Linked DNA regions of Homo sapiens. The protein of the gene in region 3 purifies or fractionates together with the protein of the main gene of each other region. This does not show direct contact. Each region holds a gene or a part of one and is shown on either strand. Other genes may lie near its edges.

What was found.
Region 1: the proteins of RAB40B (region 3) and LMO7 purify together in Homo sapiens (affinity purification with mass spectrometry, with the first as the bait; one study listed by BioGRID). This does not show direct contact.
Region 2: the proteins of RAB40B (region 3) and DIAPH1 purify together in Homo sapiens (affinity purification with mass spectrometry, with the first as the bait; one study listed by BioGRID). This does not show direct contact.

What each region holds. Positions count from the first base shown.
Region 1 is NC_000013.11:75,807,330-75,810,829, reverse strand, and holds part of LMO7 (LIM domain only protein 7), read right to left. Parts: intron 3,351-3,500; coding exon 2,631-3,350; intron 1,677-2,630; coding exon 1,647-1,676; intron 1-1,646.
Region 2 is NC_000005.10:141,573,981-141,577,707, forward strand, and holds part of DIAPH1 (protein diaphanous homolog 1), read right to left. Parts: intron 3,612-3,727; coding exon 3,495-3,611; intron 2,892-3,494; coding exon 2,776-2,891; intron 2,315-2,775; coding exon 2,250-2,314; intron 1,167-2,249; coding exon 987-1,166; intron 229-986; coding exon 1-228. UniProt on the Homo sapiens protein: Actin nucleation and elongation factor required for the assembly of F-actin structures, such as actin cables and stress fibers. Binds to the barbed end of the actin filament and slows down actin polymerization and depolymerization.
Region 3 is NC_000017.11:82,692,027-82,695,753, forward strand, and holds part of RAB40B (ras-related protein Rab-40B), read right to left. Parts: intron 1-3,727. UniProt on the Homo sapiens protein: RAB40B small GTPase acts as substrate-recognition components of the ECS(RAB40B) E3 ubiquitin ligase complex which mediates the ubiquitination of target proteins.

The DNA.
Region 1 (3,500 bases), on a different chromosome or scaffold from region 3:
GTCATATAATTTACCCCTCACTACAGGGAACACATCCAGCCACTGAAATGGTTGTACATGTTGACATTTCCACCACATACTTGTACTCTGGGTACTTTTATTTCCTTTAAGAAAAGCAACTATTTCTGAGAGCTGCTTACATTATAAAGTTATATTTAATTTACAAATGAAAATTTTTCTGAAAGTTACAATTCAACATGCTTAAAGCTGCAAAGAGATTTTTAATCAAGTTAAAACAGCTTTCCTATGACTTGAGAGTAGCAAATGTTTAAGCATCATGCAGATGAGCTGGAAAGCGGATAATGTGCCTTTGCATGGCACACGGAAAGCATGCAGGGACCCTGGTTTTTAAAATCAGTGGCTAACAAGTACTTGCAATTTGTTGCCTGTGGCTCAGTTACACCTTTGGCATCTAGAATGGTTATACTGCTTTACATTTAGTAGCTTCCAACATTTCTGAATTATCAAAGTTATAAAAAGCTATCAAAACTAGAGATTCTTATAGATGAAGTAAATCCTCATAAGGGAAGATACTTAGCTACTGAGGCTTGAGCAGATTAAAACATCTGTCATCCTTTAACTCTCTTCCTCTTGCTCAAACACTATTAGCCCTTAGATTCACAAAGTTACAGAAAGTTTGGTGGAAAATATTAAGATATAGCCACCTTGTGATTTTGTACTAAGAATGAATAAATGATTTACTGTAAATGTAGTTTTTGCCTGTAATCCCAGCACTTTGGGAGGCTGAGGTGGATGGACCACCTGAGGTCAGGAGTTTGAGACCAGCCGGACCAATCTGGTGAAACCCCGTCTCTACTAAAAATACAAAAATTAGCAGAGTGTGGTGGCATGCAACTGTAGTCCCAGCTACTCAGGAGGCTGAGACAGGAGAATTGCTTGAACCTGGGAGGTGGAAGTTGCTGTGAGCCAAGATTGCGCCACTTCACTCCAGCCTGGGCGACAGAGCGAGACTCCATCTCAAAAAAAAAAAAAAAAAAAAATGTAGTTTTTGCAACAGTGATATTAGAAATTAAAAATATTTTTGCAGTTTTTGAAGGTCTATTTTGCACTATAAATATAGCCATGTTATAACTTTTTTTTCCTAATCAGGAATCTTGAAAATATAATACTTCCAAATACCACCTAGGGAAGTTTAATGCATCCCTACTAACGAAGCTCCCAGTTGGCCGATTATAGGATAATGTCAACTGGGTGTATTCTAAACTTGAAGTAAATGCTAATATTCTTTTTCCATCACAGATTTTCTAAAATGTAGTAATTTGGGCTTTAGCATCCATAAATCAGAATTTTAGTCTATGTAGCAACCAAATACCAAAATACATATACCTAATCTTAGGCAAGTGCTTTTGTGACTTTTAATCAACTCATTAAATTTTTAAAAAGGAAAAAAGAAGGGATGAAGCTGAAGTTTAAATTTTTAATAAAACAAATAATTTTATCTTGCACTGGGCACCAAGACACAGAAATATTACCATTAGGTTGCAAGATAAACATTTCCCACTTAAAAAATATCATGCACAGCACACAACAACCCCATTTAGTGACATGCCATGCCAGAAATACAGTAAGTTATACAAAGAACAAACAACACGCACAGATTTTTTACTGTGAACCACACAACTTACCCATTCTCACCATAAATCTTTTGAAAGAGTCTAAGAAACCAGAAAACCAAAAATTAAAAAGTCATTTTTCCCAGTCATATTAGTTTCTAAACGTTCAATGTCTTCCACTTAAGAATCTAACTGGAGACGGACAAATCTCAAAAGGTCACTTCTTCCATCACATTCTTGATCATGTCTCAAGTTCTCATCAATTTCCTATCTCAGGAAATTCAGATTAAGCAAAATGAAGAATTTCCTCAATTTACTCTGAGCTAACAAATCCATATGAAAAGGCTTCCCATTGTCAGGAACTGTTAAGTTAGATTTGGATCCTCTAATTTTATTCAACCTAATCAGATTTGTCCATCTCTAAGTTCCACAAACTGAACATTCATCAAAAAGGCAAGTTGCATAATACAAACTATCAAAATGGCCATGATTACATACACATAAAATTCAGCAGACAACAAATACCATTCATGCATTTTAACATCAACGTTTACTCTGAACTTCATAAATAAAAATAAGTTACAAATGATAGTCCAAGAAACCTAGGCCAAAACCAAAAATTAAGTTAAATGAAATTTGCAATGCCATATTTTAAGGGAAAATTTCACCCCCCCAAAAAAATCAGACACTCTAAAATGTGAGCAACACATAAAACCAAACTATAACCAGACTGTTACAAAAATGCCTGAACATGAGAAGTCCAGAAACTTCATATTGGTGGATAGTACCACAGTACTGCTTAAGTCAAAGGCAAGGTTTATGTATATACAGTCTTAAACAGGCCTAAATAAGTTATTTAGAGATATGCAAATATGGAATTGCACTTTTTGTACAAAACGACTGAGGGTTTTTCAAAGCAAATTAAATTTTACGGGATGCTTCAAAATGGCACGCGACATGCAGAGTTGAGCAACACGATGAGCTGCTTTCTCGCATGAGAAAAGTTACACAAGACCATCCATTACAAGCAAAATCCTTGCAGAAACACACTCTGACCTCTCCACCATCAGCCTTTTCTTGTGCCTAAGTCTGCTGGCCTCCCGGATGGCCTCCCATCTCTTCAAGTCAGCCTCACTGCAGGGGCCAGGGGTGAAACTGATGGGAGGCACGGTAGTTCCCAGTTTCCAGGACTGAATCTTACGTGTCAGCATGTCATCTTTCTTCTGCCGATATGAAGGAACTAATATTCTACAGCTATTACTTTTTTCTTTGGATGGGCATGTCCTTTCAAGTACACAGAGAAATTTTGCTTGAATTTCTGGAGGAAGAGTCCAGGGTTCGGGAAAAGGGACTGGGTGGTATCTATCTGGGGCCCCAGACAGCGGCACTTCTTTCTTCTGTGCTGGAATTCGGCGAACAATCATATCATCTTTTTCCAAATCCGGAAGTACAAGTTCACCTTCTCTACACTGTAAAATTATATCTCGCTCTACAGAATCATCTTGCTCAGAGAACTTTCTAAAGTCTTCAAAAGCTCGGAGAACATATGGATTTGCATGGAAAGCCCCAGTCTTTCTGACAAAGAAATCATCATTCTCTAAGTCAGGATCCAGGGCTGCCATCTCGAGGTCATCTCTTCTATAGCCTGGTGCATAAGAGAGATTCTTCCTGCGGGTTATGAGCCTTGGGCCAGAAGTGGGATCAATTTTGGTATGTGTTTCAGAAGACAAGATGTCATCAGAGTATGTTTGGAGGGCCTGAAGCAGTAAAAACTGACTGATGCACAGAGAGGAAAAAGGAAAGAGAATCTTATTAAGCTTAGGGAGAAAAGGTAATTAGCAGATCGACTAGCCAAAGGTGATTAGCAGACCAACTAGCCAGTTACTGAGGGTAAATCATTTTAGAGGACCATTGTGGGGACTCTTG
Region 2 (3,727 bases), on a different chromosome or scaffold from region 3:
CCCAGGCAAAGGAGGTGGAGGAGGAGGAGGAGGAGGAGGAGGAGGAGGAGTGGTACTATCCCCAGGAGCAGGTGGTGGTGGAATAATAGTGCCAGAGTCACCAGGTAAAGGAGGGGCAGGGGGAACAGGAGCACGACTAGGAACAGAAGGAGGTACAGTAATAGCTGCCGCAGAGAGGGAAGCCATTTCTTTCTTGGCATCTTCCAGTTCCTTTGTCAGCTTGGCAACCTACAGAAATAACATCAATGTGAGTACTTCTCACCCCACTTCAGGGACTACTGGGACTGGAAGGAACCTAATAAACTACTTAATCCAAACTTCTCATGTTACAAATGGAGGAACTGAGAGGAGTCAGAGAGATGACATGATCACCTAAAGTCACACGGCTTGGCAGCAGAGCCAAAACTAGAATTCAGGTTTTCATGTTCTTAGTTCAGCATGCTTTGTATTAAGAAGACAATTTCAACCTTTATGTTAAACCCTCCCTTGATTAGAAAATGTAAAGGTCAAGTAAATTAAATGTTCTAGTTATATAACTAATATATGTGCTACACAGATGATTATATAACCACATAAGTAATCAAGTTATCAGACATCAAAGATCATTTAAGTATTTACTACTGCAGAGAGAGTGTGTAAGGATAAATCTGTGCAGAGGTGACTAAAATAACAGGAAATTAGTCAATTTTTAACAGTTTAGTTTTTATTCCTAATTTATTAGGAGACTTATTACTTTTATTTCTGGGTGGTAATGAAACTTACTTTATTCTTAATGTTTTTCTGTATTTTCCAGATTTTCTGTCTTATGTATTACTTACCCCCAACACAAACCAAAAACCAGTATATTATTTTTAAAATATGCACCATGTAACTAGATTACCTATTAGTAGCTGAACCCTCCCTAGGAGCGAGATGACTGACTCCTGTTCCAAGCCATGTGCATCCTGAGGTTACAGGTCATTCTGCCTTCCCTGCTCAGGCATTACCTCTCCTGTGAGCTGGGACACCTCTGCTTCCAGGTCCTGTTTCTCTGTGGCAATTTGCTGCTTTTCAGAATGCAGTGCATCTTTTTCTCCCTGAAGATCTTGAAGCTTCTGCTCAAAGTCACTTTCCATCTTTTTCATTTCCACCTGTAGCTCATGTCGGGCTGTTAACTCTGAGTCCAACTAGAGAAAAAACGAATCAGGCTCCCAGCAAGCTCTCCATCTCAGTAAGAAGCACAAGTATTATTACCCATAATTCTCCCTACCTCCTCTTTTGCCTGGGGGTGCTGGAATCCCCCCACTGCCTCCTGTTCTGGGCCAGTACTTGATTTACAGAGCTCATAAATCCAGGCCATGCTCGGGGGAAAAAAGCACCATGATTCTGACCTTAAAATCAAGGTTTGGCTGGGCGGAGTGGCTCACACCTGTAATCCCAGCACTTCGGGAGGCCGAGGCAGGTGGATCACCTGAGGTCAGAAGTTCGAGACCAACCTGTCCAACATGGTGAACCCTAGCCTCTACCAAAAATACAAAAATTAGCCGGGCATGGTGGTGGGCACCTGTAATCCCAGCTACTTGGGAGGCTGAGGCAGGAGAACTGCTTGAACCCAGGAGACAGAGGTTGCAGTGAGCCGAGATCGCGCCACTGCACTCCAGCCTGGATGACAGAGTGAGACTCCGTCTCAAAAAAAAAACAAATAAAAATAAAAATGAAAATAAAACAAGGTTAAAGGAGAGGGGAATCAGTTCATTTCCACAGATTCCCTATTTTTATAGTTAAAAAAAATAAGATTTTAAAGGTATTTAACGAGGACGACCATGGTAGTACAATCCCAATATTCTCTAGGATCAAAAACCTATTAACCACAATAAACGTTCTTAAAAACTGAAGAGAAAAAGAGAACTCAGACATCCTCTAGTTCTATTGCTCTAAGGACCCCAGTTCCTATTGTTCTAGGGGTAAGAGGCCTAAAATGCCAAGCAAACCTGAGAGTGCCATTACTATTACATGAGTATCATCTGTCTTTCTTTTCCTGCCCAGTAGCCCAAGAACTGAAAGTCCACCACTAGAGCTCCCTATGAAGACATCCATATCACTTTCTCCAATGACTACCCTATACTGGAAAGGTTTCCCCTGGGAACTACACTATTGGGTGCTAAACGCTTCCAAAATACCACAGAGGAAAACTGTCTCATAGATCAGGAAAATAATAATTCTCAAAGAAAGATATACTCAAACACATGTCTTTGGTCTCTCATATGCACCTTCTTTTCCAGCTCTGCAGCTTTGGCTTCAGATTTCTCCACCTTTGTCTTATCAATCATTTGATCTGAAAAGAAGAAGAGTCAGTAAGTAAAGCTCCTAATTCTCTTGTTCTATTTCTTTCACACTACACCCTTCCAAAGAACAGTCTTTTTGATCATTTTTATTATCTTTCTTAATGTTCTGCACTAGACAAAGAAATGGAACTTTCAGTTAAGTTCAACATGTAATCTGAGTGTGCGGTAAGGCCACCATGCTGGGTGGCAAGAAGAATGCCTATGAGTGATATTTTTGACTCTCTGAGACCACCAGGAGTTCCTGCAAAAGGTGCTGGTGTGTGTTTTATCTAAAAATAAACTAAAGACCTATAGATTCCTAGCAAAGATGCTGGTTATGACCTAAGAAAGGACAAAAATAGAACTATCTGGGGACTGGAAAGGTATCTTCTCTGACATTTTCACTGAAACAAGATGCAAAATGAAAGGAAGAAGCAATACTTGGAGGAGCCAGATAGAAGAGTATGCTTACCAATTAATCCCTCAATCTCAATCTGGAGGTGCCGGCACTTGAAGTCAGGATCAGCCCCGTTCTTGTGCAGAACTATCTGGGAAATACATTCTTCAATCAACTTATAGTACTGAGGTCTACAAGAGAATAAAAACAGGGTCATCAAAGGAAAATCAAAATATAATTTTCAGAAGTATTCAGGACCAAGAAAACGTAATTGCTCTGACAACTGAGAGACCTGGAAAAACTTTTGTAAAGTTAACACAAGTATTGCTGCCATGCTAAGAAAACTCCTTTTTCCACATCAGCTACCCTACCCTATCTACTTCAAATAATCAAAACTTCTTGCCATCCGCTCCTAGTGCCAATACTTTCCCATCTAAAAATTTGCGTTTGATCCTTCCTGTGATGGATAGTGCTATTGCTAAATCTATACTTCCAGGAAACTAGAAAGAATTTTAAATTGCCACTTCTGTTTGCTAACATCTTCATCCTATTTACCTACTCCCCTCCAAAAACAGAACGGCATTTCACCTTATACACTCTGACCTCTGCCATAGGGATGCCTTTGAGTTGGATTAAAGAAATAAGACAACTTCCTTTATATCGGTGACTAATGAACCCTAATCTTGGGTCTTTGTCTTTACATTTTCCTTTTACAGAACAATCTTTGAATTTAAGGAATTCACTCTCTCCACTTAGGCTCAAATTCAAAACTTCTCATAAGCACAGCATCTTACCTGGCCTCATAGTCATTTCGGACCAAGAGTAAGTGCTGCAGGATGGAAAGGAAGTGTGGCTCTGCCTTTGAATCCTTCACTGTGTTTAAGAGAATCTGAAAGACTTCATTAAAGTCAGTGGAAAAGGGAAATAGGCTAAGGAAAGCAAATATGCAGAAATTATGTTTGACAGGTGGCTTATTTAACTCTTGAAAAAGCTAGGGAAAAGTAGCAAGACACCACTTCCATTCTAC
Region 3 (3,727 bases):
GAGGTGACAGGCAGAGCAGTGGGGCCCGCACGGTCCGTGGGCTGAGGTGACAGGCAGAGCAGTGGGGCCCGCACGGTCCGTGGGCTGAGGTGACAGGCAGAGCAGTGGGGCCCGCACGGTCCGTGGGCTGAGGTGACAGGCAGAGCAGTGGGGCCCGCACGGTCCGTGGGCTGAGGTGACAGGCAGAGCAGTGGGGCCCGCACGGTCCGTGGGCTGAGGTGACAGGCAGAGCAGTGGGGTCCACATAGTCTGTGGAGTCAAGTTGCCGACAGGGTCCAAGATCCAAGAACTCTGCCCTGCAACTACAGACCGAGAGGAAGACAAACGCCCAGGAGGGAGAATCCAGGCCTCGCTGACCGTATCGGAGCAAAGGGAACACCTGGGCACAGCTGCCTGAGCAAGGACAAGATGCATCTGACTGCCCTGGCCAGCACAGGGCATGCCCATCCACAGAAGACAGAGTCTGACCCGGGGCACACACACAAGAGACAGGCGGGCCAACGGTGCAGACCCAGACCCACAGGCGGGCTCTCAGCTGGGACAACGGTGGCCGTGCGATGCGGGGTGGGGGTGGGGGGCATCCGACTGAAAAAAGTGTGTCTCGATCCCTGCCTCAGGCCTCACCCCAGCTGGAGGCAGCCATTCATGTCAAAGGTAAAACGATGCTTGTAGAGAACATTTTTTTTTTAAATCTGGGAGCAGCAAAGGTTTGTTCAACAGGACCCAAAGTCCTAACCACAAAACACTGATAATTTGGATTATGTTAAAATTAAGAGCTTCTGTTCATCCAAAAATACCACTGAAGGAGTGGAAAGGTGACGTGCAGATGAGAGTGGCTATCCAGGATCACACAGCCGACAAAGGACTCACAGCCAGAATCTATATTTTAAACACTCCTAGCAAGCATTGAAAGAAATTCAACCTAAATGAAAAAACAGACATAAGACTTGGGCATTTTTCTTCTTTCTGTTTCTATTTTTTTTCTTTTTTTTTGGAGACAGAGTCCCACTCTGTTGCCCAGGCTGGTGTGCAGTGGTGCGATCTCAGCTCACTGCAACCTCCGCCTCCCGGGTTCAAGTGCTTCTCCTGCCTCAGTCTCCCGAGTAGCTGGGAATACAGGTGCCCGCCACCACACCTGGCTAATTTTTTTTTGTATTTTTAGTAGAGATGGGGTTTCACCAAGTTAGCCAGGCTGGTCTCGAACTCTTGACCTCTGGTGATCCATCCGCCTCGGCCTCTGAAAGTGCTGGGATTGCAGACGTGAGCCACCAGGCCCGGCCGACTTGGGCATTTTTCCAAAGAGGAATTTCGCATAGACGTATGAAAAGGTGCTCAGTCATCAGAGAAATGCAAAGGCAAACTACACACCACAGAAGGACAGAGACAGCCCCGTGCTGAGAGGGAAGATGATGCAGCCGGGGCCTCCAGCTTTGCTGGTGGGAGCACCAAGTGAAAAATGCTTTGCGAGAATCTACTACAGGGAAACCTGTGCAGACATTTGCGTGCCTGATACCCAGCGATTCACACGCATAGGGACCTTTCAACAGAAATGCAAAGGATGTGTACTAGGAATGTTCATGGCAGAACAAACCATAATAGTCAGAAACCTGAAACCACCCAAATGCCCGTCACCCGCAGGATGGAGAATAAATCACGGTAGAGTCACAAAAGGGATGTCACCACCATGAGAATTAACACCCCACAGCCTCACACAACATGGGAGAGTCTCTTTCACATAACGGGGGCCAGAGACACAGTCACAGAAGTGCACATTGGCCAGGCGCAGTGGCTCACGCCTGTAATTCCAGCACTTTGGGAGGCCGAGGCGGGCAGATCACCTTAGGCCCGGAGTTCCAGACCATCCTGGCTAACAAAGTGAAACCCCGTCTCTACTAAAAATACAAAAATTAGCCAGGCGTGGTGGCGCACACCTGTAGTCCCAGCTACTCAGGAGGCTGAGACAGGAAAATCGCTTGAACCTGGGAGGCAGAGGTTGCAGTGAGCTGAGATCGTGCCACTGCACTCCAGCCTGGGCAACAGAGCGAGACTCCATCTCAAAAAAAAAAAAAAAAAAAAGGAAAACTCCAAAACTAAGAGAAAATTAGGAGACAAAAATAACATCTTTACTGAACTAATCAATAAGTTAGAAACAGCTAGAACAGTTTACTGAAATCAAAATTACCAACAAATAGGAAAGGCATAAGATAATCAGAAAAATTCAGGCCGCGCACTGTGGCTCACACCTGTAATCCCAGCACTTTGGGAGGCTGAGCTAAGCAGATCACCTGAGGTTAGGGGTTCGAGACCACCCTGGCCAACATGGAAACCCCGTCTCTACTAAAAATACAAAAACAAATTGGCCCAGTGTGGTGGCAGGCACCTGTAATCCCAGCTACCTGGGAGGTTGAAGCAGGCGAATCACTTGAACCTGGGAGGTGGAGGTTGCAGTGAGGTGAGATCACACCACTGCACTCCAACCTGGGCAACAGATTGAGACTACATCTAAGAAAAAAAAAATACATACACACACACATACACACACACACCTGGAAACTCAAAGAGTACGTTCATACTAAAAGTTTAACACAAACATTCAACTCTGAGACATGGTCTGGTTAAGCAGAAGAACTATGAGACAAAAAGAAAGAATTCCTCAGAAATTCATGAAGGGAAGGACAAGCCTCCACATGGGGAAAAATCAGCTGACCTCAGGCTTCCCCACAGCACATGTGAGCCAGGGGATGGTGGAATGACAGCTGCAAAGTGTTGGGGAAGAAAATAAATCTAAGAGTATTATACCCAGCCAAGATATCTCTACATTGTTCAAAGATAAAGACCATGGGCAGACATTCTCAGACACAAAAAAACACTCAGGAAATACTCGAGTCCTTCTGAAAAAACGACTGATAATGAAATCTAGGTGATTAAGAGGGACAGCACAATGAACAGAGACATAAATGGTAAAAGGACTTTGGTGAGCACTGACTGTATTTAAATGTTGAATTGATACTAAATCATTGCGGGCACTACAGCCACAATACAGAAGCAAGGGCTATAAACCTGGACAATATAAAAATAACAGCCTGGGCTACAAAACTCAGGAGGAATTGGGTGGAGGGAAATGGAGTGTGGAGTTACGAACGCCCTCATCTTTCTTTCTTTCTTTCTTTCTTTTTTTTTTTTCGAGACAAAATCTCACTCTGTCGCTGGGCTGGAGTGCAATGGTGTGATCTCAGCTCACTTCACCCTCCACCTCCTGGGTTCCAGCGATTCTCCTGCCTCAGCCTCCCAAGTAGCTGGGATTACAGGCACGCGGCACCACGCCCAGCTAATTTTTGTATTTTTAGTAGAGATAGGGTTTCACCATGTTGACCAGGCTGGTCTCAAACTCCTGACCTCATGACCCGCCCACCTTGGCCTCCCCAAGTGCTGGGATTACAGCTGTGAGCCACTGCGCCCGGCTGCCCTCACCTTTCAATAACAAGCACCTATAGTGTTTCTCAGCGAAACATGTCATTAAAAAAAAAAAAAAACATGGCCAGGTGCTGTGGCTCAGGCCTATAATCTCAGCATTTGAGGAGGCCAAAAAAGGAGGATGGCTTGAACCCAGGAGGGTCAAGGCTGCAGTGATCTGCAATCACACCACTGCACTCCAGCCTGGGCGGCAGAGAAGACCCTGTCTCTGAAAAAATAAAAAACAAAACATAATGATCTCAACTTCTTACTA